Homo sapiens: one gene and its partners. The protein of the gene in region 1 purifies or fractionates together with the protein of each later gene. This does not show direct contact. Each region holds a gene or a part of one and is shown in the gene's direction. Other genes may lie near its edges. The genes, in order: NFX1, LARP1, PABPC4 and HDLBP.

Evidence for each region.
Region 2: the proteins of NFX1 (region 1) and LARP1 purify together in Homo sapiens (affinity purification with mass spectrometry, with the first as the bait; 3 studies listed by BioGRID). This does not show direct contact.
Region 3: the proteins of NFX1 (region 1) and PABPC4 purify together in Homo sapiens (affinity purification with mass spectrometry, with the first as the bait; 2 studies listed by BioGRID). This does not show direct contact.
Region 4: the proteins of NFX1 (region 1) and HDLBP purify together in Homo sapiens (affinity purification with mass spectrometry; 2 studies listed by BioGRID). This does not show direct contact.

What each region holds. Positions count from the first base shown.
Region 1 is NC_000009.12:33,300,501-33,307,526, forward strand, and holds part of NFX1 (transcriptional repressor NF-X1), read left to right. Parts: intron 1-762; coding exon 763-921; intron 922-2,690; coding exon 2,691-2,768; intron 2,769-6,693; coding exon 6,694-6,799; intron 6,800-7,026. UniProt on the Homo sapiens protein: Binds to the X-box motif of MHC class II genes and represses their expression. May play an important role in regulating the duration of an inflammatory response by limiting the period in which MHC class II molecules are induced by interferon-gamma.
Region 2 is NC_000005.10:154,800,367-154,807,392, forward strand, and holds part of LARP1 (la-related protein 1), read left to right. Parts: intron 1-1,640; coding exon 1,641-2,033; intron 2,034-2,923; coding exon 2,924-3,047; intron 3,048-3,173; coding exon 3,174-3,379; intron 3,380-3,834; coding exon 3,835-3,941; intron 3,942-5,514; coding exon 5,515-5,666; intron 5,667-7,026. UniProt on the Homo sapiens protein: RNA-binding protein that regulates the translation of specific target mRNA species downstream of the mTORC1 complex, in function of growth signals and nutrient availability.
Region 3 is NC_000001.11:39,560,294-39,566,794, reverse strand, and holds the end of PABPC4 (polyadenylate-binding protein 4), read left to right. Parts: intron 1-1,416; coding exon 1,417-1,689; exon of another isoform or gene 1,690-1,725; intron 1,726-2,021; coding exon 2,022-2,109; intron 2,110-2,252; coding exon 2,253-2,372; intron 2,373-2,872; coding exon 2,873-2,959; intron 2,960-3,053; coding exon 3,054-3,181; intron 3,182-4,378; coding exon 4,379-4,472; intron 4,473-4,591; coding exon 4,592-4,722; intron 4,723-5,007; coding exon 5,008-5,097; 3' UTR 5,098-5,110; intron 5,111-5,672; 3' UTR 5,673-5,979; downstream 5,980-6,501.
Region 4 is NC_000002.12:241,235,664-241,242,689, reverse strand, and holds part of HDLBP (vigilin), read left to right. Parts: intron 1-11; coding exon 12-230; intron 231-2,381; exon of another isoform or gene 2,382-2,567; coding exon 2,568-2,789; exon of another isoform or gene 2,790-2,869; coding exon 2,870-3,088; exon of another isoform or gene 3,089-3,188; coding exon of another isoform or gene 3,189-3,299; intron 3,300-3,902; coding exon 3,903-4,041; intron 4,042-5,920; coding exon 5,921-6,075; intron 6,076-7,026. UniProt on the Homo sapiens protein: Appears to play a role in cell sterol metabolism. It may function to protect cells from over-accumulation of cholesterol.

The sequences.
Region 1 (7,026 bases):
AAAGTATGTACTCAAAAAAGCATATACACACACTCACACTCAGTTTTGAGAGTATCTGGCTGTATTGAAATCTAGAAAGACTTTGCTGCAATTGTGTTTGAGGAAAAAAATCTGGAAGTGGGTGAAGGTATTCAGGAATAGATCTGGGAGGATTATTCTGATACTACACACTGGTCTGTGTCACTGGACTTTGAGCTCCTGGAGCCAGGGACTGTAACACCACCATGGGGCTTATGGTAGGCACCAAGAATATCTTTGTTAAGTGAATGACTAAAGACTTTGAGGGCAACGGCTAGAGCCATCTCACCACTCATGGGTTGTTGGAACCTGCCCAGACTTGGGCTTCTTATAGCTGACACTACAGCTTCACGAGCCTCTTTCTAACCTAAATCCATGGATCTGATAGATTTAGAGGATCCTGGAAAATAGAAAATGCAAAGCAAGATCCTGTATTGCCCAGTGGATCCTCAGGCTATGTTACAAGGGGCATTTGGCTACTCTGCTGTTTTCCTGGGAATGTTTCCTTAATTGTGGGAATCCCCACCTGAGTGTCTCCTTCCTAAATCCTCTTCCTCAGCAAATTCCTGCCCCTTTTTGGCCTCAGTCTGAATAGCCAGCTGCCTTACCCAGAATCAGATATCCCTTAAAATCTCTGTGTTTGGATTCTTCTCTTGAGTGACTTGCTGATCCTTGGTTGATTAAAGTGAGGAATGGTTTTTTGTGTTTGAGTTAATCTTTTTTGTTATTTTGTTTTTTAAACAGGTTCTCTAATTGAACAACTAACAACAGAAAAATACGAGTGCATGGTGTGCTGTGAATTGGTTCGTGTCACGGCCCCAGTGTGGAGTTGTCAGAGCTGTTACCATGTGTTTCATTTGAACTGCATAAAGAAATGGGCAAGGTCTCCAGCATCTCAAGCAGGTCAATTAATTCTCTCTTCTGAGTAGTTATTCTCCCCTATTTGATACGTTTAAGTATTATTAAGCCCAGCTTTAAAAATACAGTTTAATTTCTCTTAACTACTTTTTCTGCAGGGAGAGTATGTTACCTTGATCATGTGTTTCATATGACCAGAATTAAGTTATAGATCTTAAATAAACCAGCTAAACAACAATATTAAAATATATTTTAAGATACGACAAAATCAGTCACTCTTATTGAAAATGATGGCTTTTACTTATTATTTTTTCTTTGACCTACTGATTTTATTTCCTGTGGATACATAAACAGAAGTGTGATTGCAGGATCATATGGTAATTCTATTTTTAATTTATCTTCTTCTCATTTTTGGCCAGGCATGATGGCTCACGCCTGTAATCCCAGCGCTTTGGGAGGCCAAGGCAGGCGGATCATCTGAAGTCAGAAGTTCAAGATTAGCCTGGCCAACATGGCAAAACTCCATCTCTACTAAAGATATAAAAATTAGCCAGGCGTGGTGGCGGGCACCTGTAATCCCAGCTACTCGGGAGGCTGAGGCACAAGAATTGCTTGAATCCAGGAGGTGGAGATTGCAGTGATCTGAGATTGCACCACTGCCCTCCAGCCTGGGTGACAGAGCAAGACCCTGTCTCAAACAAACAAAAAAACATTTTTTTTTCATTTTTAAATTTTTACTATGCATACGTAATAGTTTACATGTTTATGGGGTACACATGATATTTTGATACAAGCGTACAATGTGTAATGATCAAATCAGGGTAATTGGCATATGGGGATTCCAACACCTCAAATATTTATCATTTCTTTGTGTTAGGAGCATCCCATTTCTACTCTTCTAGTTATTTTGAAATATATAATAAATTGTTGTTAGCCATAGTGCTACTAAACACTAGATCTTATTCCTTCTATCTAACTGTATTTTTTTTTTTTTTTTTTTTTTGAGACAGAGTCTTACTCTGTTACCCAGGCTGGAGTCCAGTGGTGTGATCATGTCTCACTGCAGCCTTGAATTCCTGGACTCAAATGATCCTCCTGCCTCAGACTCCCAAGCAGCTGAGACTACAGGCACATGCCACCACATCCAGCTAATTTTTTTTTTTTTTGAGACGGTCTGCTGTGTTGCCCAGTCTTGTCTTGAACTCCCAGGCTCAAGCAATTCTGCATCAGCCTCCTAAAATGCTGGGATTAGACACATGAGCCACCATGCCTAGCTAGTGGTTTTTTTTTGTTTGTTTTTGTTTTTTTTTTGAGAGGGAGTCTCACTCTGTTGCCCAGGCTGGAGTGCAGTGGCACGATCTCGGCTCACTGCAGCCTCCACCTCCCAGGTTCAAGTGATTCTTCTGCCTCAGCCTCCTGAGTAGCTGGGATTACAGGCGCGCACCACCACGCCCAGCTAATTTTTGCATTTTTAGTAGAGATGATGTTTCATCATGTTAGCCAGGGTGGTCTCAATCTCCTGACCTTGTGATCCACCCACCTCTGCTTCACAAAGCGCTGGGATTATAGGCATGAGCCACCACACCTGGCCTTTTTTTTTTTTTTTTTTTAATGAACCCCATATTTAGTGGAAAATGCTGTATTCAAGCTAAGCAGTCAGTATTGTGAATTTGTTCCTTAAATGTCTGATATGCTTAACATTGAAATTATTACCACTACTTCAATATTGTGTCTTCCTATAGATTTAAATTTTTTTAATTACATGTAGCTTTTGGAAGAAAATTTATTTGGCCTACTCCCATTTTTCCTGACAGATGGCCAGAGTGGTTGGAGGTGCCCTGCCTGTCAGAATGTTTCTGCACATGTTCCTAATACCTACACTTGTTTCTGTGGTAAGTTTGTTTATATACACTGGAGTCTCTTTTACTACATACATTGTACCTCAGTTCAGGAAAGGTGGTCTGCGGGGCATGTTTTAGAAGTTACTAATGAGACTTCAAAGCTCTAGGAGTCTATAAGACTGTAATTATGTGGTCCATCACACAGCTAGAGCCACAGCCTTTGTGCTCCTGGCAAGCTGTTCTGGAGATGGCCAACCAGGCTCATGCTGCTTCTGGGCTGTAGTGCTTGTCTCCTTGGTCTTGAGACCAGGCCTGACCATGTAGCAGAGATAGGTGTGGACGTGGGCTTCATCTCACCCCCAGCAGTTACAGCTTTGATAGTCCAGATTTGAGCAGTATGAGTAAATAATAGTGTTTATTTTAATCCTGGAAATAAGTCATTGGTATTTATAATCAGATTTTTTATAAACCAGCATTATAAACTCTATCCTGGCATCTTCCCTCTTTATGGAATACTTCTTTCTGTTTTTGAATATCTCAGTTCCCCCAAGTATTAGGGGAAAACTTCTTGTAACCCAGATGCTCATTCTTGCTGCTAGCCCATTTCTGCATGTTTTTTTTCCTTTCCTGCCTTTTAATGACTAACTTCCCTCTAGTTGTTGATTTTTCAGATTTTGTTTCTTTACTGTCTGTCTCCCTCCCTGAAGCATTGCATTTTTGCTTCTGTCTTGTTGCCTCACTGAAACCGTATTCAGAAATTACCAATGGGCCGGGCTTAGTGGCTCACGCCTGTAATCCCAGCACTTTGGGAGGCCAAGGTAGGTGGATCACCTGAGATCAGGAGTTCGACACCAGCCTGGCCAACATGGTGAAACCCCGTCTCTACTAAAATAAGTTAGCTGGGCATAGTGTTGCATGTCTGTAATCCCAGCTACTTGGGAGGCTGAGGCAGGAGAATCGCTTGAACCTGGGAGGCAGAGGTTGCAATGATCCAAGATCATGCCATTGCACTCCAGCCTGGGCGACAGAGTGAGACTCCATCTCAAAAAAATAAATAAATAAAATAAAAACAAAGAAATCACCAATGACTCCTTTCCAGCCATATCTAGGGCTGATTTTATAAGCTCATAATCTTTTTGGTAGAGTGATAGCCCTTGACACCTTTGACCATTCCCTTCTTGAAATAAGTAGCTCTTCCTGTTTGTTTCTGCATGCTCTCCTTATTTTTCTAACCAATTTGCTCATATTTCTCCTTTCCCATTACTTAGCTAGCAGCTTTCACAAAGAGTCAAGTCATTTACCATCAACTCTGAATCTTCTAGATGCAATACCTTGGTGAACTCTTTGACTTCCCCTTCTTTTCTTTCAATTCTTAACCACAGTATCATTTAAGATCTGACCCCAAACACCCTCTTACAAAGGAAGCTTTCCTTTGTTATTCTCTGTCTCACTTTGGCCTCTGTTTTATTTGGAATTTTCCGGTCTTACATGTTTTATTGACAGAATCTCAGCCTTAATAGATACTAAATTGGTATTAGATGAGGGAATAAATATTCTTGAATATACTACCAGAAAGGCAGCATGAAACTGGAAGTAAGAGATCAGTGGAAATTTGGGCAAATAGGACAATACCAATACTTAATACCTTATTTTGAAGGATTACATAAAGTACCACAATGGAATTAAAAATCTTGTTAAAGCCTCTACTGGCAAATTAGATGAGAGACTCTAAGGCAGTATAAGAATGTGGAGTGAAGGTCAAGATGATCTGAAAGTGGTAAAATGATGTGAGAATGCACATAAAGGCCTTATTTGCAGATGACTTTGCCCCACACTGTTCTTCCAGGGGACCATTAATTTAACATGTTTTTATTGAGAACTTATTAATGTTCAAGGCACTGTGAAGAAACAGAGGCGAATAAAACGGTTAACTTACCAGAGCTTACAGTCTAAGAGTTAAAACACAATTAGCCTGATACTCTGCTAGAAGTACAAAGTACTATGGGAGATCTTTGGGGTAGTTACGACTTACAGCTGGATGATTAAGAGAAGCCTTCTTGGAGGAGGTAGAATTGAACTGGCATTGTAAACTAGGTAAAATCTTTGTAGGCAGAAAGATATGTTGAAGGGAATAGCATAGGCAGTTCAAAATCAACAGGGTTTAGGGTATATTGGGAGAAGAGTGATTCATCCACTTACAGAGCCCAGGATCTATGATGGTAGGGGAGTGGGAGATGACTGGAAAGGAAGGGCTGACCCTTTGATACCAGTCTCAGATGTTGGGACTTCATTTGGAAGGCTGTGGGAAGCCACTGAGGGCATCAACATGATTCTTTATGGAGATTAGTTTGGTAGCAGTGAGTAGAGTATTTTGGAGCCTAAATAATTTGGGACTTATAATCCAGATGAAGAGTAGTACAAGCCTCTAAGGAGTGTGATAGAAAAATATGGTGTTAGGTTGATTCCTGACAGTAGTAGGAATGGGAGTCACCCAAAGTTTCATGCTTTTGGAAATGGTGATACCAAGGAAAAGGGCAGGTCAAAAGAAGAAGGTCTGGTGGGGACAGTGACTACAGTTTAGAAATGTTGAGCTGGAGGAGTGAGCAGAACATACAGTGAAATATGTCCAACAGGCAGGTAGCAATATTTGAGGAAAGACCAGGACTTAAGGATGAGAATCACAGCTGAGAGGAGTAGTTAAGACCCTAGCGGATGAAAGGGTACAGAGTGAGAAAAGGGTGTAATGCAGAACACTTGCAGGGGAAAGAAAAGCAAAAAACCCCAAAACATCATTTGGAGTCAGGGACAAAAGGTAGAGCTCTTGAGAGATGTTAGAGGAAAACCAGGGCACTGTATTGGAGCAAAAAAGCACAGAGGCAGGGAGGCTTTTGTGATAGTCTGGAGATGAGGTTTTGGCCAGTTAGAGAGGCAGGAACAGGAGAGCGATGAGGTGAGAGCCACTTTGTAGGAAAAATTGACACAACTTGGTGATTAAGTAGAAAGAGGTGTCAGAGATGACTGTAGTTTTTGAGCGTGTGTGACTCTGACAGAGTTGACGTCACTGACAGAAATAGGAAACCCTGAAAAGGGAGGAGTTATAGAGGGAAGATGTGAACTTTGACTGTGGATAAAGCCAGTTTGAGGTGACTGTGAAACCCCAAGCAAGAATGTTCAGCAGACATTTGGACATATGGGTCTGAAACTGAAGATTCAGGGCAAGAGAGAAAATGTGGATTTGGGGATCAATGGCCTTTAGGTGGATTGCACCTCTCAACATGAATAAAATTTCTGAAAGAGATAGTATAGAGAGAAAAGCAGAGGCCATGGACTGGGGATGGCTGCAATTTAGTGTGCAAATTGCCCAAGTGAGGATGAATTCCTCAAGGGCAAGGAGGAATCCTGTGCCTTCGTTTTACTCTTCCCTGTCTCTGCTGAGTCCATGGAAGATGTGCCATGAAGATTTGCAGTGACATTGATTATAAAAGTATAAGGTCTTTTATGCCGACTTTATAGTTCTGGAATAGGTGAGTTCCTGCTACTCGGGATTTATGTCCTTTCCATTTCTTACTGCCTCCCCCCTTTCCCCACGGTGCTCTTCTCTTATTCCCTCTCTCTGATCCTTCCAGCAGCAATTCGCATATCAGTTCAGAAGTCCAGTTATAGACGACTTGTCTTATAGGTATTTATCTTAAATTAAACGTTTCCATTAGTCAAGATAGTATTTTCGTAAGTAAAAGTGACTTTTTATTTATCTTTCCCAGGTAATCCAAGATTTAAGATTTATCATACTCAGTGAAACTTTTTATGAATAGCATTATATTTATCTTTTTATTTTAAGATATGGGATAATACATTTGTTGAAATAATAAAAACCACACTAAAGTTGCATGCTGCCTAGCTATACTTTACTGTTTCATTAAAGTTGAGAATGTGGTTGAAGTTTGTACCATTGACTCTCTGATCTGATATGTTCTAGGCAAGGTAAAGAATCCTGAGTGGAGCAGAAATGAAATTCCACATAGCTGTGGTGAGGTTTGTAGAAAGAAACAGCCTGGCCAGGACTGCCCACATTCCTGTAACCTGTAAGTTGGAATGCTAATTCCGTTGGGATTGCTGGTGGACATGCTTTGCTGGTGGCTCTAAGTAAACATACCTGGTTAGCATGTAATGGTTTGGGATGAAGGGTGATATGGGACCTCAGTAAATGGTCTCAAATCACCCTGTGCCAGGCACTCTACATCAGTTAACTTGTTGAATCCTTACCACAGCCCAGTAATAGATATTTACCATCTCTGCTTTACAGATGAGG
Region 2 (7,026 bases), on another chromosome or scaffold:
TCTGGGGCTGCGTTTTTGGTGTCTTTTCCCTGAGTATGTCCCCACTATCATGTATGTAAGCCCCTTAGGTCCTCAGAAGAAGGAAGGGAGAGGGAGCAGATGCATGGCCCAAATATGGAGTTAGTCTACACAAGTCTGCTGCACTAATGGCAAGGTGACCTTGGGAAGCCTGTTCATACCTCAAGGCTTCAGTTTCTCCATCTGCAGATGAAAGGAAGGAGACATTAGAATATTCTAGAAATAGTTTATATATATAAACAGATGAAGTTCACTGTTAAAGAAGTATTGCAATCTCTAACTAAAATTACTACTTCCTTTTTAAGTGCTGAATTTTTCTCCACATACCTGCTCACTGTCACCCACTTTGGAGACCTCTGGCCTGGGGCTTGTGAGGAGACTGCAGAATTGACCTTGAACTTTGGGTCTATGGAATTCTATACTCCCTTATCTATTTTCCCACAGTGATTACCTCTCATCTCCTTTCTCTTGCCTGCCTGTTCATACACAGAATTCCCCACAGTTGTGGCTTCAGCCCTCAAAAAGTGTTGGAGATCCAGCCAGAGACATGAGGAGAAAGGTAGTAAGTAGATGAGGGTTTTACAAAGTCCAGGCCTACAAAGTTTTGTTTGAAACAGGGGTCAGACTTAGCTCCCATTCCAGAATTAGAGCCCCTACTCTGACCTGGTCTATCTTAAACCTTAAAAAAAGATAGGTTTAGAGTTTATGTGCTCTTGGCACAGCAGGGAATCTACTTTTGAATAAATACTGTGGGTTTAGACAAATGCTTCTCTCTCAGCGTCTCATATTCAGTCTATCAAAACAAATAGTTTTTCTTTGCTGAAGGCACCGTGTTTTCTCTTGCCTTTGGAACAATGGTATTCTTTCTGCCTAGTCTGTCCCTATCTTCATCTGGCTTACTTATGTTCATCCTGTGGTAGTCACTTCTTGAAGGAGGCCTTCCGTAACCATTCTTAGTCACAGTTGACTAAGCTCCTTTAACTGTGTGCATCCACAAACCTGCTTATAGCCTTTACCATACCACAATGCAGTTGGCTGTTTGGTTGACTTTCTCCCATTGAGCTCCCTAAGTAACAGGGACCTTGTCTTATTCTGCTTTTAGGTTTTTCATACAGAGCTTAGGACTAATGGGTACTCCCTCATTTATTATATAATTGAACATCTGGTATTACCAGATCCCCGTCTAGGTACTGAGTATATAATGGAAAGCAAGGCAGCTGTGGATCATGGAGCTTCCAGTTTATTGGGAGATGTTGAATAGATGGATAAGTGGATGAATCAACCTGCTGAACTTCTGTGTGTCCACTCCTAAGCTAGGTGCTATGTAGGATATAAAGGTAAATGAGAGCACAGTTCCTGCCTATAGAGAAGTCATCATCAGTTGTTTGTGCATGACTGTGATATGAGCTGTGAGTGGAGGAACCTGGACTTCTATGAAACATCCTTTCTCATAGTCATAAAGCTGACTCCCAGGATGACGCTTGTGACCTGCTGGTGTTACCAGGGTCATAGTTGAACAGTCTTATGTTGAGAGGCTGGAGCTTCCCTCTCATGGTATAGCTACAGAATCTGGGCCAAGGATCTCTGGTGATTCCTTTTCCCCTTCGTCTGTCCTATTTTAGAAGTCAGAGGAGTCCAGATTTTCCCACCTGACCTCTCTGCCTCAGCAGCTGCCTTCCCAGCAGCTGATGTCCAAGGATCAGGATGAGCAAGAGGAACTGGATTTTCTGTTTGACGAGGAGATGGAGCAGATGGATGGGCGGAAGAACACCTTCACTGCCTGGTCTGATGAGGAATCTGACTATGAGATTGATGACAGGGATGTCAACAAGATCCTCATTGTCACCCAGACACCACATTACATGCGCCGGCACCCAGGGGGGGACCGCACAGGCAACCACACCTCGCGTGCCAAGATGAGCGCCGAACTGGCCAAGGTCATTAATGATGGCCTCTTCTACTATGAGCAGGACCTGTGGGCTGAAAAGTTTGAACCTGAGTATTCCCAGATCAAGGTGAGGCTTGGACATAGCAGTGAGTGTGGAGCCTGGTGTGCCTGTATTGTACGGAGAAGAGGAAGCCTGATTAGCTGTGCAATTTTAGGCAGGTCCTTATAATTCAGAGTCTCAGGATTTTTATATATGGGAAGGGGATGATGACTGACATCTAGCTTGGGCATTAGGAGTGAGGGGTGATGTGTAAACACTGCAAACTCTTCAGGTGAGGCGGTGGTGATTATTATCCTATCTGCGGATCCATAGTTAATATTCTGACAGTTGGCTAGACACTTTTGTGGGGAACAGAAAAAGGGTTAGATTGTTATTTCTAGTCTTAAATATTTAGGCATCTAAAAATTTAGAAGCCTTTTAAGAAGCTTGTGTTGAGTATGGAAAATGGAGAAAAGATAAGTCTTTTGAAAAATTGCTGCTGCCTGGAAATAGTCAAAACATCTCTGTTGTGGGATTTTAGAGTGGGTATGTTTGGTGGTAGGTTGTCCTAGGGTGAGCCTTTGTAATAAGTAGCAGTGTGTTTCCTGGAAGTAAGGAGGAAGGAGAGTTGCCCAGCCACTGTGTGATAAGGCAGTAGCAGAAAGAGAGATGGGGAAACACTGGAGCTTTCAGGGGGGAGTGTGTAGTGAGTTCCTGAGGAGCTACTGTCAGCCTGATCTCAGTCTTACTACAGGGAGGGCAGGGCAAGCACTGTCTTCTTCTGGGCTAGCACACTTGTGCCAAGGTAACTGGGGTGAGGAATGGTGACTGGGCAGCTGAGAGCCTGGGGACCAGAATTCCACGTATGTCGACGTGGGAGCTGCCCTCTCCAACTTCCTGCCAGTCTTGATTCCTTAAACAGGCTAGAGCAGCCTGCTTACTTACATCTTTCCCCACTCATCTCATGACCTCTGCAGCAAGAAGTCGAGAACTTCAAAAAGGTCAATATGATCAGCCGGGAGCAGTTTGACACACTGACCCCTGAGCCCCCTGTGGATCCCAACCAGGAAGTTCCTCCTGGGCCACCTCGGTTCCAGCAAGGTGAGAAGCAGACACCTGAGATCCTGACATGGGTGAGAGGATCTAGGGCCCTTGGACTGGGGGCTATCCTGGGGTGGATGCCACAGGCCTTTCCCTGCTTCCTGACTCCTCTCTCTGCCTCTGCAGTTCCTACGGATGCCCTGGCCAACAAGTTGTTTGGTGCTCCTGAGCCCTCCACCATCGCCCGCTCTCTACCAACCACTGTCCCAGAGTCACCAAACTACCGCAACACCAGGACCCCTCGCACTCCCCGGACACCACAGCTCAAAGACTCAAGCCAGACATCACGGTTTTACCCAGTGGTGAAAGAAGGACGGACACTGGATGCCAAGGTGAGGCATTCCTGTCGGGCTGCTCAGAGTCTTGGGTCTACTTCATTGCATTCCAGTGCTTTGCTTCTCTCCCTTGCCTTGTCTGAGCTAAGGAAGTGCTAAATCCTTCACCTGCTCTGTGTTCTGAGGCTGGTGGGCTTACCTAGGATTAGGTAGCCACATCTGCAAAATATACTGGGTGTGGGAGTGGTAACCCCATGTTGAAAGGCCTAAGGAGGATTGACCAGGTATGAGTCCTTGGGCAAATCACTGCATTCCCAAACCTTGATTTCTTCACCTGTTTGAAATAGGCATACCAGTTCCTAGCTCACCACTGTGAACTTTATACGAGAATGAATATGAAAATGCTGTTGTAAAATGTGAGAGATCATGCCCATCTTAGTCCTACAAGTGCTTGATGCTCCTCAGAGTTGTAGGAGTACAAACAGTAACAAACCCTGGGCTAACCTTTGCAGATGCCTCGAAAAAGAAAGACAAGACACAGTTCAAACCCACCCTTGGAGAGCCATGTGGGCTGGGTGATGGATTCCCGTGAGCACAGGCCCCGTACTGCTTCCATCAGGTACCTGGGGCAGTGGGGGAAGAGTGATCAGGCTGCCTATGGGATGGGTGGGCGAGCCATGAAATTGACTGGACCAAGAAGATTGGTCTGAAAATTAAAGGGACCCTCATCTAAGAGGTTTTCAAAAAACCAGTGGTGTGGAAAGCTCAGCCCAGGACCTGGGAATGACGGGTAGGCTTTTTTCCTAAAGAAGTGGTGTGGCAGTCACGTGAGACCAGATTTTCATACATGCAGAGAGAAAATCTCTGAATTGGTTTCCAAGCCTGGCTATCTACTTTCTGTCTGAGGAAGAATAGCCAGGTAGTTGAATAAACAGATTTCTGGCAGTCTCTCTGAGCCTACTATGTCTTGGGAGGCTACTTGAAAAGTTTTAAAAATTAAAAAAATACATATTTATTGGCCCCAACCTGTATCTGCTGACCCTGCTTCTTGGGGTAGGGCCCACACTCTTTTTTATTTATTTCAGTAAGATGGCCCCAGTGTGTGTTTCCTGTTTCCCAAAGCAAGCTTTGAGAGCCACCTACCTATGACCAATGCTCTCTACTCCCTGCAGAGATGGCACAGACTGCAAATAGGCATGCTTTTGAAGAAAATATACAATTGATCTTTGAACAACGAAGGGCGTGGGGTGCCCAGCTGCACACAGTTGAAAATCCGTGTATAACTTTTGACTCTCCAAAAGCCTACTGTTAACCAGAAGCCTTACCAATAACATATAGTCAATTAGCACATGTTTTGCATATTATATGTATTACATACTGTATTCTTACAATAAGCTAAATAAAAAATATTACTAAGAAAATCACAAAGAAGGGAACAACAAACACTGGGGCCTACTTGGTGGGGAGAGGGAGGAGAGTGAGGTACAGTTTACCTACTTAACAAACCTGTACACATACCTCTGAACCTAAAATAAAAGTTAAAATCATAAGAGAAAATATTTACTGTTCAGTAAGTGGAAGTAGAATCATCATAAAGGTCTTCATCGTCGTGGTCTTCATGTTTAGCAGGCTGAGAAGGAGGGGTTGGTCTTGCTCTCTCGAGTGGCAAAGGGGAATCATCATAAAGGTCCTCATCCTCATGGTCTTCACATTGAGCAGGCTGAGAAGGAGGGGTTGGTCTTGCTGTCTCAAGAGTGGCAAAGGTGGAAGAAATCTGCGTATAAGTGGACCCACGCGTGGATCCATGCATTTCAAACCCATGTTGTTCAAGGGTTCACTGTAGATGGATTGACCCATGATGGCTCATTAAAAGGTTAAATGCTTAAAGTTAATAAATGGTTAAAAGCTCAAGTTTTATCATTGGACACGTTTCTGCCATTAAATAGTCTTATGACCCTGGATGAGTCTCCTAATCTCTGTAAGCCTCAGTATCCTCTGTAAAACTCTCTGAGAGTTGATGCAGAGTTAATCAGACCCATGGATATAAGTTAAAGGTCCGTAACTGGGCCTCCTTGTTTGATACCCTGTGAGAGGATGGATCTTGGCTGACAGAACGGATCAGAGGGACCCCTCCTGACATGGTGGGGCTGCTGTGGGGAACCTGGTGACAGTATTTTTTGTGGTTTCTGTAGCTCCAGCCCCTCAGAAGGGACGCCTACAGTTGGCAGCTATGGCTGTACCCCTCAGTCATTGCCCAAGTTCCAGCATCCTTCCCATGAACTGCTCAAGGAAAATGGCTTCACACAACACGTCTACCATAAGTATCGTAGGCGCTGCCTTAATGGTAAGAAGTGTGGGGGGCAGGAGATGAGCCTCTGGGCCCGTTATTTAGACCCAGAGTATAAGAGTTGGGGGATACGGGGATAGGTGACTCTTTTCTCTGACTTCAGAGCAAAAAAAAGACATGACATTATAGCAAGAAAGACTGAAGTTAGACTCGGGCCAGGTAGTTTTAAACTGTAGGAAGCTAGGGGGATATGGCACTCACAACGTTCGTGTTCTTTGATCTTCCTCTATTGATTATTAAAGCTGTCAATTAAGTATTTCCATATCTCTGGCAAGATTACTGACTCAGCCATTGTCAGGTCTAGTCCACTGTCCATCACAAAAGGGTATGTAAGAGGTGACATATGCTCTCTAGAACAAAGGTTGCCAAACTGGCCTGTGAGTCAAATCCAGCCAGTATTCTGTTTTCGTATGGCTTTGGAGCTAAGGACAGTTTTTACATTTTTAAGGGGTTGTAAGAAAAAAAGATTTGTGACAGAGACTATATGTCTTCTGTAAAGCCTGAAATATTTGTTCTCTGTCCCTTTACAAAAGTAGTTTGCTGATCCCCTCTCTAGATGATAGTGTAAGGAACGAGCCTGTCTAGATGCTCTTGTCTGTCCCTGCTCTTTTAGTATTCTGATAGGTTGGCTGTAAAGACGCGCAAAACCAATCTAGTCACCTGTAGTTATTAACTCATTCATCCTCTTTCATTCAACAAAACGTGGTTGCTAAATTCTTGATTCATCCACTTCACTTCTCTCTTTCTTACTCTATGTGTAATAACAGCTTTATTGGGATATAATCTACATATGATGGAACATACCTAAAGAATACAATGTAATAGCTCTAAGTGTACTCATATAGTTGTGTGCCCATCACCAGAATCAATTTTAGAACATTTTCATTACCCCCAAAATGCTATGCCCCTTACCAGTCATACTCATTATACATGCAAACTACTCCCCACCCCCAGAATCCTCCCAGCCCTATGAAACTACTAACCTACTTTCTGCCTCTAAGGATTTTGCCTATTCTGGACATTTCACATAAATTATACTGTATGTGGTCCTTTGTTACTGGCCTCTTCCCCTTAGTATATTTGGTATACTAACAAATACACAGCAAGGTTCATGTCATAGCATGCATCAGTACTTTATTCTTTTTATTGCCAAATCATATTCCATCGTATGGATGTATCACATTTTGTGTATCCATTCATCAGTTGATTGGCATTTGGGTTGTTTCTACTTTTTGTCTATTGTGAATGATGCTACTGGGCATATTCACATACAGGTTTCCTGTAGACGTAGTTTCTCCTTTATTTTGGTTAGAAGAGTAGTATTGCTGGGTCATGGGGTAACCATGTTTAACCCTTT
Region 3 (6,501 bases), on another chromosome or scaffold:
ATCTTCTATCCTTGCTTATCTGCCTAGTAGTCAAGTTGGCATTTGTTAAGAGAGCAGAAGAGCCATACCTTGAATTGTCCCCATTTTCATTATGATGGTGTGGCATTTTTATTCACATACCTTACTGGCCCATCTCATTGGTAGAGAGTTATGGAGTGATGCACTTCTTTACTTCCCTATCCTCCACTTCAGGAGGCTCTCTGGGCCATTAACTAAGACATAAAACAATGACAGTCACACCAGAGAAGACAGTGAATAACCTTGTCTATTAGGAAGAATGCCATTTGTGAATGATGAACTTAATGTGGGAAAAGACTGCCTGAACCAGTAGACCTGTGGTTTTGTAGCTGTTTGGAGTATTTCTTGGAAATTGAGCCTCAGGAAGGCAAGTGAGACTAGAATCTAGGCTGCCTATCTCTGAGCTGGTCATCTCATTGAATTAATGGTGGCAGTCATTGGTTACCTGAACATTTTAGGACTCCTGTCCACACGTGGTATTCCAAAAGTGTTATCCTGACGTTGGTAAGAGCTTGTTAGAGTTTGTCCACCGAGGTCTTGAAGCATATGAGATATGAAAATAAATTGCTCAGTACTACTCTCAAGATGTTTTGTGGTTACCCGGAGTAGCTATCCACCAGGTATCAGGAAACATCTTTGAGTTCCTGGTTTTATTATTAGCCATATCATAGTGTTTCAGAACTTTAGCATCACCTGGGGACTCAAAGAAAACACCTAGATACCTTAGAGGTTGTGACTTAGTTGGTCTGGGGTAAATCCTGTGCCAGAACCCTGACCTAGACTCAGTGACTGCAGCAGAACCCAGGCTTTCTGGTTCTTCTGAATAGTTCCCTCCCCACCCAGGGACATCCTTTTTTTTCCTATTTGTAGGTTTGTTTTGTTTTTTTTGTTGGTTTGGTTGGTTGGTGTTTTTGTTTTGTTTTGTTTTGTTTTGTTTTGTTTTGTTTTGGAGATGGAGTCTCGCTCTGTCGCCCAGGCTGGAGTGCAGTGGCGCGATCTCGGCTCACTGCAATCTCTGTCTCCCGGGTTGAAGCGGTTCTCCTGCCTCAGCCTCCTGAGTAGCTAGGATTACAGGTGTGTGCCACCACGCCCAGCTGATTTTTGTATTTTTAGTAGAGACGGGGTTGCACCATGTTGGTCAGGATGGTCTTGAATTCCTGACCTCGTGATCCACCCACCTCGGCCTCCCAAAGTGCTGGGATTACAGGCATGAGCCACTGCGCCTGGCCCTTTGTTTTTTTGAGATGAGGTCTCACTACATTGCTCAAGCTGGTCTCAACCTCCTGAGCTCAAGCAGCCCTCCCACCTCAGCCTTCCAAAGTGCTGGGATTACAGGCACAAGCCATCACACCCAGCCAGGGACACCTTATTTCTTAAGTAGCTGGTCTCATTTTGTAGGTAATGCTGGAGGATGGAAGAAGCAAAGGGTTTGGCTTCGTCTGCTTCTCATCTCCTGAAGAAGCAACCAAAGCAGTCACTGAGATGAATGGACGCATTGTGGGCTCCAAGCCACTATATGTTGCCCTGGCCCAGAGGAAGGAAGAGAGAAAGGCTCACCTGACCAACCAGTATATGCAACGAGTGGCTGGAATGAGAGCACTTCCTGCCAATGCCATCTTAAATCAGTTCCAGCCTGCAGCGGGTGGCTACTTTGTGCCAGCAGTCCCACAGGTGGGTGTGCTGTTTGGTCACAGCTCTTGGGAACCTGCCGGCTGGCAGTATTCTGCAGTGGTTGGGGAGAGGGATTTTTCGTTATTAGAGTTCTAGAATGTCACAATAAGGACCCTTCAAGTAAAAATGAAGGACTTACCCATGGTCACAAACACACACCCACAGTGGCAGTGGTAGCATAAAACAGTCCCCATTAGCTGACCCCTCAGCTCTTGAATAGAAAGAACATTTAAATAATTAGCTTAGGTCCTGGTTAGTGAGATGAGATGAGATACTTCTCTAGGATGGGTTCAGTCCTTAAGGGGGTGTTTGGGTATTCTTCTGTCTTACAGGCTCAGGGAAGGCCTCCATATTATACACCTAACCAGTTAGCACAGATGAGGCCTAATCCACGCTGGCAGCAAGGTGGGAGACCTCAAGGTAGGTGGTGGGGAACAGTAATTGACAGCCCAGGATATACCTGTCCTGGTCTCCCCTGCCTTTCCTTCTTCCCCACTCTGAGGCACAGCCTAGGTTCTGGTCCACATCACTTCTCAATGATGTGCAATTTTTCTCTTCACCAGGCTTCCAAGGAATGCCAAGTGCTATACGCCAGTCTGGGCCTCGTCCAACTCTTCGCCATCTGGCTCCAACTGGTAATGCTCCGGCCTCTCGTGGCCTCCCTACTACCACTCAGAGAGTCGGTGAGCAAACTGGCCTTTAGAAGTGTGGCCTGGGGAGGAGGGAGTCAGGATGACTAGGCTCTGTCCTGGGTTGGTCAGTTTGTTGGGCTCGAATTTATCGAGTCCTGGTTCTGTAATCTTAGCTGTGTGCTTAGGTGGCCACTTCAGGAGCAGAGAAACAGTATGAGTTCTAGGTGTGTCAGTTGCTTTTAACATTCTTTGCTCATCGGTGACCTATGTGAAAAAGGTTAGTTGTAGAAGTTTGCTAGCTGGATGACCACAGAGGCAGCTTGTTCTTTTGGGTGGGGTGAGGAATACAAGGAAACAGTGTATACAGAATATGTCTTGTATTCCAAGATGTGGAAAGAGTTGTATGTTATCCTTTGGCTCATCCTCGAAAGTAGTAGTGGCCCCCTGTGCAATGTGTTGCGTAAACGTGCTTTGAAATTTCTCCTTCCGTGGGACGTGGCCAGTTGGACATCTGCCGCCAACACTGATGTGCATTTGCTGGTCTGTTGTAGGGTCTGAGTGCCCGGACCGCTTGGCTATGGACTTTGGTGGGGCTGGTGCCGCCCAGCAAGGGCTGACTGACAGCTGCCAGTCTGGAGGTGGTATTGGATGCACACAGAAGGGGGAAAGATGGGATTTGACGGGTCTTTGCCCAGACTGATGGGCTTTAATTGTATTTGTTCTTTCCCTAAGGCGTTCCCACAGCTGTGCAGAACTTAGCGCCACGCGCTGCTGTTGCTGCTGCTGCTCCCCGGGCTGTTGCCCCCTACAAATACGCCTCCAGTGTCCGCAGCCCTCATCCTGCCATACAGCCTCTGCAGGTGAGGTTCACCAGACAGAATGCTTAAAAGGATTTCCCCCATTTCCACTTGATGTAAAAGAAGCTGTGCTTTTGATTCCTTCAACAGGTATTAAATGCCTGCTCTGTGTTATGACGCTATGTTCTGATTCACTGTCCCTGCCCTTCAGGGGCTCACTAGTGGGAAAGAAGGGGCTTAAAAGTGCTCTGCCTGATGCCAGTTCACTCAGAAATGCCTCAGAGCGGGCAGCCAGTGCTTCCTCTTCTGTTTGTACGAAATAATGTGCTCATTCAGCTGTTTGAGCCTCCAGGTCACTTCCGCATCCAATGACCTATTGGATCCTTGGCTGCTCTGCAAGATGATTGGTACATTAATGCAGGAAATAACTTCAACTTACAGATCGGATGTTCAGCTTCAAAGATGTAAAGTGTGTGTAGGAGGTGAAGGGGTTGAACCTAGAGCTTAGATTTTCTAAGCTGTAACTTGCTGTCTCTAGACCTGTGCTCTAGATGCAACTAGTTTGTTTCAGAGCCTAATAGCAATTTGCTGTGGAGGTGTCACCCTAAGCCTTCAGGCCCATAAGCTGCTTAGGAGATTACTCTTTAACTGTCCTGTCTCATACTCTCTAAGTTGGGGATTTCCTAGAACTTGATGCTATGTAAAATACCTTTTCTTTGCAAGGCTTTGACTAGCATTGACGTTGCATGTTGACCGTTTTTAAGCATTTGATACAAAAACATTTGGTAGAATTAAGGTGATGTGGAATGTAATTATAAATGTGTTGATATTTACTCCCTTTGATCCAATCTGCACTGAGATTTACCCTAAAGGAAAACTAATTTTCAGGAAAAGGTTATATACAAGTGTTTACCCTTATTTATATCAAGGCTTTTCATTCTTGAGTAACTTTGGGTGTATTAAGGAAATGTCAGAAAATGCTTGCCTAGCACTATAGGTTTGTTTTATTATTTACGTTTCACTTCGCTTTCTGATAGCATGCCATTTTCATTGTAATTGGTTGTGTTTATGTCCATACCACTCTGTTCCTCAACACACCCCTCAATCCTTCAAGGACTGAAATTAGTTCCTTTAGAGCAAGGACAGCCACCTCCTCTCCTCTTTCACATAGTCAGATGTTCAGATATTGAACAGGCACTCAACCACCATCAGGTGTTGTCCTTTCCTCAGTGCTAACCCACTGCCTTTCCTGGTTCCCAGGCACCCCAGCCTGCGGTCCATGTGCAGGGGCAGGAGCCACTGACTGCCTCCATGCTGGCTGCAGCACCCCCCCAGGAACAGAAGCAGATGCTGGGTGAGTGACCCACTTGCTTGCAGAAGAAGAGGGTCCCAGAGCCTGATGCCAGCTAGGACACCAGTGTCCATTGTTTACTGGGATTTGATTTGTTTTTTTATTAACTATCCTCCCCATAGGAGAACGCTTGTTCCCACTCATCCAAACAATGCATTCAAATCTGGCTGGGAAGATCACGGGAATGCTGCTGGAGATAGACAACTCTGAGCTGCTGCACATGTTAGAGTCCCCCGAGTCTCTCCGCTCCAAGGTGAGCTGGGGCTCAGACCCTGCAGCTTCAGTTCTCAGCTTGGGAAGACTGGGGGCAAACTTGGATGCCCAGGTGCAGCAGAAAGTGGGATCTGCTGCCCCCAGGACCCCTCTCGTCATGCCTTGACTGTGACTGGAGGCTGCAGTGGGTATTTGGGAAAGTAGTTAGCACCAGAAGCCTAGGGATCATCTGTACAGTTGGCTTTGGTCCACCACTAGGTCTGGGCACTGGGGAGGGGTGGAGTAGCTCTCCTAGATTCACTGACCACCTGAAGATTTCTCGCAGGTGGATGAAGCTGTAGCAGTTCTACAGGCTCATCATGCCAAGAAAGAAGCTGCCCAGAAGGTGGGCGCTGTTGCTGCTGCTACCTCTTAGACAAGGAAAAACCGTATGTGTGGCTATTTTCATTTTTGTTCCTATGAGCATTGTTCCTATGAGCATTGTCTTTGTGGTTTGACCTGAGGTTGTATATATGCTCACTGCTTAGCTCTGGGAATACAATAAGTACAGTTAGTTACACGGAGTGTGTTGCAGGTGACTTCTTATCATGAGGACTGTGGACTTTGTCTGCAGGAGCTTGAGTGAATAATAAAACTAGTACTGGTTGATGGTTGTAGGTGTCTCCAGATAGGGAAAGAAGAGACAGTAAAATAAGCTAAGGAAAAAGCACATGGTAAGGACCAGAGCTGGTGTGTTGGGAGGGTTGACTTGGCATAGTCATGACCCTCTTGTCAAGGGCCTCAGGAGCCTTGTCATCTAGTGGTAAAGACCAGAGATGCTGCTAAATGTTGTACAGTACACAGGAGGACAGACCCAACAGAATGTCCAAAGTGTCAATAGCACTGAGGTTGAGAAACTCTCTTCTAGAATACCTTCCTTTATCCACTATATGTTAATGAATCTAAATTATTTGATTATGCATTTATTTGTGTTGGTGCTTTTCTTTACAGGATTCAAAAGCCAAATAACCCCTTATGGAATTCAACTCAAGGTTTGAAGACTTCCTAGCTTGTCCTATGGACCTCAACACCAAGGATTACAAATTGCAAATTTAATAGGTCATTTTGTATCAAAAGGTCAATTATGAAGCACCTAGAATTTTTCAATTATACGAATATGTTCTTTGGGTTCTGCTGTGGCCCAGACAGTGTTAACTTTTTTTTTATTGTGGGTTTTGATTTTTTCCCCCAGAAATTGGTTTTATTTGATGTACCCAAGTCTTACGTTTCCCAATAAAGAAAAAAAATCTCCATAAAACTGCCTCTGTCTCTGACCACAGTTTTACTCTATGAATTCCGGTTTTCACTGGAAGTAACTTTAGGATGTGAATTGGTTCCAGTGATAGTTTATTCTTTCTTGACTTGAAGCTGACAAAGATTAGCAAGATACACAGAACTGTTAAATATGATCCTGTCCCACACTGTTCTGTTACAGTATGATTGTTACATTAGCCCCATTTAACTTAGAGGGAACAGAGATCTGATGTGGTCAGAGCAGACCATGGGTCTGGCCCAGGAAAATCTGGGGCAGAGTGGGGTTGGCGCACACCCCAAGGACATACGGTGAGATCTGCAGATCCCAGTTGGTTAGTTGAGCCCCGTCCTTCCCTTCCTGAACTCGGTTGGGGTGTGTCCTGTCCCCTCTTATTTCCTGCAGTCAGTTTATGCTGCATTCGAGTCAGCGGATCCAGTTCCCCAGATTCTGCAACCAAGTTTTCCCCTAGCAGGGAAAATGGGAGGTCTGTGACTATAGCAAATGGTGCTGAAGTCTTCAGTGCTT
Region 4 (7,026 bases), on another chromosome or scaffold:
TTTGGTTTCAGGCCAACATAGCCGAGGTAGAGGTCTCCATCCCTGCCAAGCTGCACAACTCCCTCATTGGCACCAAGGGCCGTCTGATCCGCTCCATCATGGAGGAGTGCGGCGGGGTCCACATTCACTTTCCCGTGGAAGGTTCAGGAAGCGACACCGTTGTTATCAGGGGCCCTTCCTCGGATGTGGAGAAGGCCAAGAAGCAGCTCCTGCATCTGGCGGAGGAGAAGGTGAGCATGGGGAGGGAGCGTGACTCTTGGCAGGAAGCCTGGTCCTCAGTACAGTGTTCTCGCTTCTCACTGTGGAAACCCCTGAATGCCCTTCCTTTGTGGCGGGTCAGAAAACAGCTCTATAATGTACTGTTTATGCGTCTTTGTTTTTGCTGTTACTGGAGGGCCTTTCCAGGTCCAAACGCTCACATATGCAATATATAAAAGTTGGTCTTTGGCTTATTAGTTTTGGGGTGCTTTTGTTTTTTAAATATGATTTACAGTAAAATTGGCCATTCTTCAGGTATAGTTGAGTTTTAAGTAACATGCAGTCATGTGACCACAATCATCAAAATTCATTTTCCATCACCCCTAAAGATTGCCCATGGAATTGCTGTTGTCCTTGTGTCAAAACCCATCTGTGGGTATGTTTCCGGGCTCTTCTGGTGACACCAGGTTTATGGGAAGTCTGGAAATCAGTAGTGTGAGCCCTCTTAACTTTGGCTGTTCTACACCCCTTGCTGATCAGCCTGTCAATTTGTAGGAAAAAAGCACTTTCACGTTTTGATTGGGATTGTGTGAAATTTGAAGATGAGACTGGCGAGGATTGACAGCTCAGCAGTTTTGACTTTTGCAGGCATTTCTCCATTTTTTTTAGGTCTGTGATTCTTTATTGGTGTTTTATAATTTTTAGCACATTTTTATGTTCGACTTAACAGATCTAACTACTGTTACTCTTTTAGTGCTATTGTAAATGGCACTTTTTTTCCATTTCCAGTTGTTAGCACATGGAAGTGCCTGTGGTTTTTGTATGTTGACCTTCACGAGGCTGCTAAATAAAGCTCATGTATATTAGCGCCAGTCACTGTTTTGTGGATTTTTTTTTTTTTTTTTTTTTTTTTTTTTTTTTTTTTGAGACGGAGTCTTGCTCTGTCGCCCAGGCTGGAGTGTAGTGGCGCAATCTCGCCTCACTGCAAGCTCCGCCTCCTGGGTTCACGCCATTCTCCTGCCTCAGCCTCCCGAGTAGCTGGGACCACAGGCGCCCGACACCTCACCCAGCTAATTTTTTGTATTTTTAGTAGAGATGGGGTTTCACAGTGTTAGCTAGGATGGTCTCGATCTCCTGACCTCGTGATCCGCCCGCCTCGGCCTCCCAAAGTGCTGGGATTACAGGCGTGAGCCACTGCGCCCGGCCCACTGTTTTGTGGATCCTTATTTTATATGTCACAATCACGTGGTCTGTGGACAGTTACATTTCTCTCTAATCTGGAGCCTTGTATTTCTTGTCTTTTTTGTTGTTGTTATTAGATTGATGTTTTTGTCTTTGTGTTTAACCAGCCTTGCGTTTCTGGGGTAATCCCTGCTTGGTTTGGTAGGTTGTCTTTGGCCATATTGCTAGATTGCATTTGCCTAATTGATTGCCTAATGTTTGACTAATGCTGCTATTTGTGGATGTCTTTGAAAAGTAGCAGAGTCTCTAGGTGGTATTTGGTGAAACCTGCACTTAAAAGGTAGCAAAGTTGTTATTTAATATTTTTGTGCTAGCATGTTTTTCTTTGGTATTTTTGCTTGCGGGCCAGATCTTGGGTCCGGAGAAAGGCAAGAGCTCCCCGTGTGGACCTGAGTCCCGTGGAGCAGCGCCCTTCTCGGGGCCCCTGCGTGGGTCTGCCAGAAGCACTGGTGTCCACAAGCAGTGTCCGGGGCCTTTCCAGGACCCTCGTTTTCTTACTGCCACACAAGGGCGTCGCACTACACGAGGCCTCTGAGGACCGGTCTCTAACTGTAGCCTTGGTTGGCTTGTGTCCCTCTGAGCTTGAGCTTGAGCCTGGGGAGTGGCTGGTTTTGTGGAGGCTGATCTGTAGCACTCGTGGGAAGAAAGGGAGCCTGGCCCAGATTTGTGTGTGCTTGGTCTGGAAGCAGGTAGAAGAGTGGGAGCATGGTGCACACCTCTTGGGCAGCTTGCTTCCTGCTCTGCTGGGCACACCCCACGCTCCCCAGGACGTGCACTCCGCCAACATATCGTCCGGCGCGTTGCTCCCACCTCCCCCTGTGCAGATCAAAAATGGCTTGGAGAAGTTTGGTCAGTGCTTGTAAGTGGCAGGACCAGGGTTCTAAGCCTGTGTGTTCATCCCACCAGCATCTGGTTGTTGTGGAAGAGAAGTAGGTGTGCAGTCTGGGTATTCATCTGTTTATTCAGTGAGGTGTGCTAGCCCCATTTTGGGGGTATTGGTGCAACATCAGGACACTGGTGACAATGTAAGGGGAGCCCGAGCTTGCTGTCCTACAGACCCTCTTGTCTTCCTCACTGTGGTCCAGGCACGTGGTGTCAGGCTAACACAGTGGGATTGGTTTCTGCAGCAAACCAAGAGTTTCACTGTTGACATCCGCGCCAAGCCAGAATACCACAAATTCCTCATCGGCAAGGGGGGCGGCAAAATTCGCAAGGTGCGCGACAGCACTGGAGCACGTGTCATCTTCCCTGCGGCTGAGGACAAGGACCAGGACCTGATCACCATCATTGGAAAGGAGGACGCCGTCCGAGAGGCACAGAAGGAGCTGGAGGCCTTGATCCAAAACCTGGTAGGGAGCGGGCCTCGGCGGCCGACTCTGCTGGGGCCGTGATGGGGTGGCTTATCTTCCATCTCTTCTTAACACTGCAGGATAATGTGGTGGAAGACTCCATGCTGGTGGACCCCAAGCACCACCGCCACTTCGTCATCCGCAGAGGCCAGGTCTTGCGGGAGATTGCTGAAGAGTATGGCGGGGTGATGGTCAGCTTCCCACGCTCTGGCACACAGAGCGACAAAGTCACCCTCAAGGGCGCCAAGGACTGTGTGGAGGCAGCCAAGAAACGCATTCAGGAGATCATTGAGGACCTGGTAGGCACTTGGGTGCTCGGGGAGGGGTTCTCACCCCCCAGTGGCCACTCACCGAAGCCGTGTATGAGTGTTCGCTCCACCCTGTAGGGAGGTGACTCCCTCATACAGCCCTGGAAGGCTTCAGAAGGGGCTTTCTGGTGCTCGCTCTTCTTTCCTCAGCCTGTCTGGCCTCCTTCCTGATAGTTGGTGAGAATTCTGCCTGCGAGAAGCACTTAAAAAAAAAAAGAGAGAGAGAAGGAGAAGAGGAGAGGGGAGAGAGAGAGAGGAAAGAAAGCAAGAGAAAGAAAGAAAATGCATTCTGTATAAGGGATCAGGAAAAATGAAAATGCAGTCTAAGGGGTCAGCTCTCTTCTCCCCTCTGTGAAGGAAAGAAAATCGATTTGAGGGCATCCACGTGAATCCATGGGAAGTCATGAGAAGACGTGGTCTTTAGAAGCAGTCTTTAGAGAGTGTCCCCTCCAGGCCACTCCCCTGCCAGGGCCTTGGATTCCCTTTCCCTAATAATCAAGTCTGATGCCTCCTCATGGAGTCAGAGGCTACCCCAGGAGGTCCCACTCCTTTGGCTGAATTGGCCACCCTCCAGGGATGGCACCTGGCCTTCTGGGACACATTTCAGAGGAGGCCCACCCCCTTAGACCTGTCCTGCTACCTCCCTCCTCCCTGCGCCTGGAGCCCTGGACTCGGGAGAAGGGGAGCATCTGTGCCAAGTGGCTGTAGAGGACAGGGAGGAAGGTGGTGTGAAGAGTGCTGTAAAACTTGCCCTAAGGAATTTAATCTTTGCTCTTTTCTTTTTTCTTTGTGTACCTCCCTCCAGGAAGCTCAGGTGACATTAGAATGTGCTATACCCCAGAAATTCCATCGATCTGTCATGGGCCCCAAAGGTTCCAGAATCCAGCAGATTACTCGGGATTTCAGTGTTCAAATTAAATTCCCAGACAGAGAGGAGAACGCAGGTGGGTCCCCCATTAGCCCTGCTCTGCTTGTTAATAGTGGCGCCTCCCATGTGAGAGGCGGGGCTGTCGCACATACTGGTGAGGCTCTTTCCTGTCTCTGCTGGAAAACCATCTATGTATTCTGGGGGCTTCCAGAGGTTCAGGGTCACTCCCTGGCCTTTAAAAGATGGACCACGTCAGTTACTGACAGAGTGACCAGGTGACCTTCATAGGTCCTAGAGACACACAAGGTAGCCAGTCCCAAGGCGATGAGGAGCGTGCAGCCTCATCCTCGGGTGTCCCGAGTTCAGTCCCAGTGATTCTCATGACATCGTTTGGATCGCATGAGCCCCGTCGTAGAGCTTCCTCCTCCACATCTCCCATCACTGTGGGGTGTCCCCTGTGAGGCAGGCAGCTGCAGCCTCTGGCTGGCCAGAGGGCACCATCCAAGTGGCCGGCAGTTCTAGGAGAGCATTCAGTTCCCCGTACCATGCTTGCCCCCAGCTCTGCTCATGCACCTGGTGGTGGGGAGGCGACCTGTGGGATGCGGGTCGGTTGCCTCTCTCTCACTTGCTCTGCATTTGTGAAACAAAAGGTATGCCCTCCACTCTGTGTTATCAGATGCCCGCCCTCCACTCTGTGTTATCAGTCTTGGTTGAGCTGTTTGGGCGGCAGGTGGCCCTGCAGCCTGCTGAGTGCACATAGTGTCATCTCTCTGGGCATCCAGGAAGCATGTCACACACAGCCATTCAAGCCCCTTTGTTTTCCTGAGAATACAGGGTGTTTTGAGTAGGAAACTAATAAACTCATACTGCACTCTGTCTATGTTTTACACTTCAGTGGTTATTTAAAACTTTGATTTTGATAGAATTTCACAGAATAGTATAAAGACACATCCTGTGGCACCAGTTTCTTTTCTCAACTTCTCCCCTTTTACACACGTTTTTTTTCTGAATGTCATTTTTAGACATGTCCCTTTATTCATGGTGGGTATTTTCTTAGAACAAGGACATTCTCTTACATAATTCTAGCACATTTATCGGAATCGGATTTAACATTATATAACAGTAGTATCTAATATGTTGTCGGTATTCAAATTTGCCAGTTTTTCTCCTTCAGAAACACCTACTTCCCCATCCTAGGATCACCCTTGATTTCAGGCAGGCGTCTGTCTGGTCTCCTGCTCATTTATTTACATCACACACCTCCTGGGTTCTGTCTTAGTGATAATTATTGTTGTGTCTGTTTTGTGACACTTATTGTTGTGGTGTCTATTTTGGTACACACGCGGTGTCCCAGTGTGGCCTGTAGGAGCCCCTCCAGCTGTCTTCTGTGTCCTGTTCACACGCCTCTTCACTTCTGGGGCTCTCGCTTTCTGGCATAAGGAGCTGGCACAGGTTTACCTTGGCCTTGCCCTTTCTGTCTCCCCTAGACCTCTCACCCCCCTTCCCACTGCCTCTCCTGGGTGGGGCTGCGTGCTGGCCGCCTTCCCTGATGAGCCCTGCCTCACAGTCAAGCCTCACTTGTGCAGTGGGTCTGCCCTGTGTTCCTCCCATGAACTAACTCATCTGATCTCACTGAAGCCTCTGCTGTAGTTAGTTGCTGTTAGCTTCATCTTCAAGGTGAAGAAGGGAGACACAGAGCTCACGGCCTCCCGGCAAAGCCTTCATTGCCGCCCCCCCCCCCCCCCCCAAGGTCTGGGAGCCCTCTTTGAGGCTGCTGTGGGGACGTCCTATCTGCTCTCCCTGACCAGACCAAGACCTCCTGAAGGACAGGAGTGGTTTTCCCTCCCTTTTACCACCCAGCACCCAGCAGGTGCCTCACAGACATATGCATTCTGAACAAGGTGTGGGGTCTCTTCCAGCAGCTGTCAGCTGTCCCTTTTCCCCTTTCTCTCTAGTTCACAGTACAGAGCCAGTTGTCCAGGAGAATGGGGACGAAGCTGGGGAGGGGAGAGAGGCTAAAGATTGTGACCCCGGCTCTCCAAGGAGGTGTGACATCATCATCATCTCTGGCCGGAAAGAAAAGTGTGAGGCTGCCAAGGAAGCTCTGGAGGTATGTGTCCATGTGCCCCCCTCCACCCCCCGCCAAGGCCCAGTCAGCAGGCACCTGGGGAGACGCGTGGCCTGGATGGGATGGACGGTTGCCCAAGCGGCAGTGGCAGTGGAGGTAGCCCTCTTGCTCCTACCGTGTGCGCACGGGCTGTGCTTCTCGGCTGGACACAGAGTTTGGGGAGGCCACTTCCCTTCACCAAGGCTCGGGGTTCTATAGCCCCTTTCTGGGACAGCTGCATGGGATCCGGCCTCTCAGGCCCACGGTGGGTGCGGGGGCTGTGGAAGGGTCTCAGCTGCAGGGGGATGAATGTGACCTCCAGTTGCAACGTCTCCCCCCGCGTGAGTGGGGTTATCAGGCCTAGCTCACCTTGTGTGCAGTCAGTGTCGAGTGCCACCTGCGTACTGGATGCTGCTCTCAGTGCTGCGGTGCCACAGCACACAAAAATAGTTCTCACGTTGCCGTGGAGAGACAAGCAGTCAACGCAGATATATCCTGTGGCAAGTGATGGTAAATGCTGTGGCAAGAAAGCAGGTTCTGGAGGTGAAGGGCGGTGGGGGAGACAGGGCAGGGAAGGTGAGCAGCGGTCTGAGAGTCCCTTGTGGCACCTCGTGGGCATTAGCCAAAGCCGTCCTGATCCCAAGGGACAGGGCAGGGAAGGTGAGTAGTGGTCCGAGAGTCCCTTGTGGCACCTCATGGGCATCGGTCAAAGCCGTCATGACCCCGAGGATGTGCCAGGAGTCAGGGCCTCTCCTCCTACGTGGGCCTGAAGGGGCTGCTGTAATTCAGGAGGGTAGGCTTGGGATGAAGGGTCTGGAATTTCTGTCTGCCAGCATTAGCCTAATGCAAATCTTTTCCTATTCTTTTCTATTGAGTTAAAGGTCCTGGTGGCATTGTCGGGTGGGGCACATTGCTGTTGTCATAGGGCTGTTTGCCTTGTGTTTCGTGGAGCCC